Linked DNA regions of Homo sapiens: region 1 is linked to region 2. Evidence: fine-mapped expression QTL. Tissue or cell type: whole blood. Region 2 holds a variant in brackets; the other region holds the start of a gene. All regions are shown on one strand. Distances are between the middles of the regions.

Evidence for each region. PIP is the estimated chance that this variant, and not a neighbour inherited with it, causes the effect.
Region 1: it holds the start of SELENOW, and the variant in region 2 is fine-mapped to the expression of SELENOW in whole blood (INTERVAL, PIP 0.99).

Annotation. Positions count from the first base shown.
Region 1 is chr19:47,777,239-47,779,738 of GRCh38, reverse strand. SELENOW (selenoprotein W) reads right to left here and starts at 1,036. Exons shown (of 6, transcript NM_003009.4): 1 at 925-1,036. The coding sequence starts at 953. RefSeq lists silencers at 739-878, 889-1,148.
Region 2 is chr19:47,856,761-47,859,518 of GRCh38, reverse strand. It overlaps TPRX2 (tetrapeptide repeat homeobox 2), which reads right to left and starts at 284. Exons shown (of 3, transcript NM_001397347.2): 1 at 248-284. The coding sequence starts at 272. The variant A/C (reference allele first, on the strand shown) is at 1,318.

The DNA.
Region 1 (2,500 bases), 80 kb after region 2:
CTTCCGGGCTCCAGTGATCCTCCTGCCTCAGCCTCCCAAGCAGCTGCGACTACAGGAGTGCGCCACCATGCCCGGCTAACTTTTTAAGTTTCTGTAGAGACGAGGGGGGGGTCTCCCTGGGTTGCCCAGGCTGGTCTCGAACTCTTGGGCTCAAGCGATCCACCCGCCTCAGCCTCCCAGTGTTTGGATTACAGGCGTGATCAACGGCACCTGGCCTAAAATTCCCCTCTCTTAAGGGATTCCTGGGAGGATAAATTCATTGAACACGTATTTATTAAATACCTACAGCATGCCACACAGTATTAGGTGCTGGGGAGTGGAGAGAACGTAATTTATATCCTATCCTATTATACCCTTCCTGAGACTTGCAGAAATTAAGCGTGTTCGGTATTGACACAGAGCCTCCCTCTTGCCACAGACGGAAAACTGAGGCCAGAAAAGGAGTGGGGTTCGTGGCCAAGGGAACCCACTGGGCAGAGGCCAACAATTCAAGTGCTTCTGAAACACAGGCTGAGACATTCTCGAACCTTCTGGGCTCTCACTGTCCCCACCCCGCGACTGTTCGGGATATTGGGGGAGGGGAAGCCTTAGGGTGGAGGAGCCTTAGGTCCCTTTACAAAGCTGACCCCCAGCCCCTTCCCCAGCGGAGCCCCGGAGTCGGGGGTTCGAAATTGACACACACTCGTCTCAGCCCCACCTTTTATAACCCGAGATGCCCAGCGTGTCACAAGTCGAAGACGGGGCCTAGGGACGACCGCCCTCTGTTTTTCGCCCCTCCGTACGCCCACCCCACCCACATACAGGGGCTCCCTTTTCCCATACAAGGGCTCCCATGGGTCCTCTCCCCGGGGCTCCCTGACCCCGGCTCCGAGAATCGGGTCCCGGCGGGGGTCGGGGACGGGGGCCGCTGGCCGCTGGGCTTACCAATAAACGACTCGGACGGCGAGAGCCATGGCTCGGGGCTGCCACATCCGCTGAGGAGCGGACGCCCGGGCCACACTAACCTCCCACCTGGACGCGCTAGGTCTGCGCGAGTGCGGCGGGAACCTGCGCAGAAAGGATGGAGCCTCGGCTTCCCCTGGCGCCAACCAATGCCAGGGAGGGGCGGTGGGCGGTGGGCGGAGAGGCGCCAAGGCGGAGGATAAGGAACCCGCGACCCGCCAGCCCGAGGCCCCCACACAAGTCTCCTTCCCATCCTCCTGTTGGGCTGGAGAGAGTCTCGATACAGGCAGTCCCCGGGGGAAGCCCTCCGCGCGTCCCCTCCCAGGTCCCCCCGGCCAGAATGGTACGGCCCACGGGGGCGGTGATTTACGGCTGGCCGCTCCCAGCTGGACCCGGAATCAGCCTCAAGGGTGGTCTTTTCACTGCGTGGGCTTGGGGACGGCGCGGTGGGGACAGAAGCAGGGCGCGATTCTTGAGTCCCTCACCTCCCCTGGAGAGGGCGAGGGGGCGAGAGGGGAAGGATTCGGGGTAGACCAGGTGAGGGAGGAGACAGGGAGTTGAGGGGGAGGTTTTCAGGGAGCGGTCCAGGGCCCACAGTTGCCTTATAAAGACCTGCAGCCGCAGGGCGCGGTGGCTCACGCCTGTAACCCCAGCGCTTTGGGAGGCAGAGGCAGGAATTCAAGACCAGCCTGGGCAACATAGCCAGACTGCGTCTCTACAGAATAATAATAATAATACATTAGTGGCTGGGTGCGTTGGCTCACGCCTGTAATCCCAACACTTTGGAAGGCCGAGGCGGGCGGATCACTTGAGGTCAGGAGTTCAAGACCAGCCTGGCCAACATGGAGGAACCCCGTCTCTATTAAAAATACAAAAATTAGATGGGCGTGGTGGCGCGTGCCTGTAGTCCCAGCTACTCGGAAGGCTGAGGCAGGAGAATTACTTGAACCTGGGAGGCGGAGGTTGCAGTGAGCCAAGATCAGGCCAATGCACTCCAGCCTGGGTGACAGAGCGAGGCTCCACCTCAAATAAATAAATAGATAATAAATCAGCCGGGCGTGGTGGTGTGTGCCTACAGTCCCAGGCTACTTGAGAGGCTTAGGCAGGAGGCTCGCTTGAGCGCAGGAGTTTGGAAGCTGCTGTGAGCCGTGATTGCACCACTGCACTCCAGCTTAGGCCACCAAGCAAGACCCTCTCTAAAAAAACAAAAGGCCTGCTGCGGCTGGGCACGGTGGCACATACCTGTAATCCCAATGCTTTGGGAGGCCGAGGCAGGAGGACTGCTTGAGCCCAAGAGTCTGAGACCAGCTGGGGCAACATAGCAAGACCCCATCTCTACAAAAACTTTTAAAATTAGTCCGTGTGGTGGCATGTACCTGTACTCCCAGTTACTGGGGAGGCTGAGGTGGAAGGATCACTTTAGCCCAGGAGTTTGGGGCTGCAGTGAGCCGTGATTGTGCCACTGCCACCCCAGCCTGGACAACAGAGTAAGACACTGTCTCGAAAAAAGAAAGAAAGGAAAAGGCCTGGCCAGGCACAGTGGGTCACACCTGAAATC
Region 2 (2,758 bases):
TGGTTTCAGAGTCCCGGGCTCAAGTGATCCTCCCACCTTGGCTTCCCAAAGAGCTGGGATCACAGGCGTGAGACTCTGCGCCCAGCTGCATGATTTTTCATTTCCCAGACACCACTAAGTTCTCCCCCGTCTGCAGGACAGGAAGCCGCCCGCACAGGCCCAGCCCTTCTCTGGCTGCCCAGATTTGCACTCTGCAGCCTCAGCCACAGGATCAGCCCAGGCCCCTCACACCTCTGTCCCTGCTCACCTTGGAGATGACCAGGGTCTTGCATCCTGAGTCCTGATCTGTTCCCAAACACAAGTGTGTACTGACAAGGGCTTGGCTCTTAAATCACTTCTCTGCTGTGCCCACCCTGGCCCACCCTGCCAGGACCCTCCGTTTCCCACCCTGCCCTGCAGTCCCGCCCCCTGGAGGAGTTGAATGGTGGATTAATCCCTCATCACTGATCAGGTACTGCCTGCTGAGCTGTGCTAGGAGCTGGGGAACCTCAGTGGACAACACAGCCTTGGTTTCACCCTCATGGGCCCTAGCCCAGGCGAGGTGGTATTCCACATGGGATCGGGGGAGTCAACATCATGACCTGTGGTTGGGGTCCCCATCTCAGGAGAGGCACCGCCAGCCAGCCCCCAGGAGTCATCCTTATTCCTTCCCAGGGCTGGGGCCCCACATGATCAATGCCAGCGAGTCTACCCACTCCTCCCGGCTCCCGGGCTGCCCGCCTTGTCCAGTCACCATCCCTCTCTCCTGGATGACCCCACAGCCTCCTCTTTGGTCCTTTGAGGCCACTCTGGCCCCTACTAGTCATTCTTGAAGTTTCCTGCTCCCCCAACCAGGAGGGGACACAGGTCTGATGGACATTTCCATGGACTGCTACTGATGTATGCAGGGGACCCATTACCTTGGTTCACACAAGTCAGGTCCCTCAGAGATGCATCTGCTGTGTCAGACCCCTGGCTGCCCTCATCTCCTCATAGCAGGACCCACATGGGTTCAGGGGTCAAGGAGATTGACAAGGCTCATGATCCAGGGAGCTAAAAATGACTCATGCAAGGCTGGGCGCGGTGACTCACGCCTGTAATCCTAGCACTTTGGGAGGCCGAGGCGGGCAGATCGCCTGAGGTCAGGAGTTTGAGACCAGCCTGGCTAACATGGCAGAACGCCGTCTCTACTAAAACTACAAAAAGAATAGCCGGGCCTGGTGGCAGGCACCTGTAATCCCAGCTACTTGGGAGGTTGAGACAAGAGAATCACTTGAACCTGAGAGGCAGAGGTTGCAGTGCAGCCTGGGTGACAGAGGGAGACTCCGGCCCCCTCCC[A/C]AAAAAAAAGAAAAAGAAATGACTCATGCAACCAATTTCAAAATTCAATAAAACGTAGACATTGTTACCACGGGCCTCGCTCATTGTTTTCACCTGCTACTTAGAGTTCTATTGTAGAAAGCAGCATCCCCAGCAATGATTCCTCATTGCACACATTGTCCGGCTTCATCTACAGGACATGCTGGGAACACAGTAGTGACCACAGAGATTTTGCACCGTGGCTATTTATTTGGCCAATAAAGACATAAGCAGATGAACAAGCTCACTGGTACTATTTTGTGAAGATAGACATTTAAATATAAGAAAGTTCTGCCGGGCGCAGTGGCTCACGCTTGTAATCCCAGCACTTTGGAAGGCCGAGGTGGGTGGATCACCTGAGGTAGGGAGTTCGAGACCAGCCTGACCAACATAGACAAACCCCATCTCTACTAAATATACAAAATTAGCTGGGCATGGTGGCACATGCCTGTAATCCCAGCTACTCGGGAGGCTGAGGCAGGAGAATTGCTTGAACCCAGGAGGTGGAGGTTGTGATGAGCCAAGATCGTGCCATTGCACCCCAGCCTGGGTAACAATAGTGAAACTCTGTCTCAAAATAAATAAATAAATAAATATAAACTGAAACAAAACAAATAGTGGCTGGGCATGGTGGCTCATGCATGTAATCCCAGGGCTTTGGGAGTCAAGGGGGGAAGATCACTTGAGGCCAGGAGTTCGAGACCAGCCTGGGCAACATAGCGAGACCTTATCGCTACAAAATATATTTTAAAAAAAAACAAAAAACTAGCCAGGTGTGGTGGTATGCACCTGTAGTCCCAGCTACTTGGGCTGCTGAGGGGGGTGGATCGCTTGAGCCCAGGAATTCGAGGCTGCAGTGAGCCATGATCAAACCACTGCACTCCAGCCTGGGCGACAGAGTAGAGACCCTGTCTTGGAAATAGATAAATAAATAAATTATAAAACAAATAGATGGTATGTTTACAAGTTCCCTGCACGCTCTTAAAAGGTTGCTTAGTATCTCACTGTGGCATTCTTCCATCATTGTATCTATATTCTGCTTCCTTTCTGGAAACATTTTACCATAATTGCACATTTTGTTCGGCTTTTAGGTGGCTGGGAACACATTATTCACCAAAGCAGATGATGGCCCTGCTGTCAACAGGAATGATCTCACAGTTTTCTTGGTCTATAAGATGTGAGTAGATGGTCCCCCTCTCTATAATTTCTAAAATAAATTAAATGTAAAACTTTGCATATTTGAGGCCAGGCGTGGTGGCTCGTGATTGTAATCCCAGCACTTTGGGAGGCTGAGGCGGGCGGATCAAGAGGTCAGGAGTTTGAGACCAGCCTGGCCAACATAGTGAAACCCCATCTCTACAAAAAAATACAAAAAAATTAGCTGGGCGTGGTGGCGGGCGCCTGTAACCCCAGCTACTTGGGA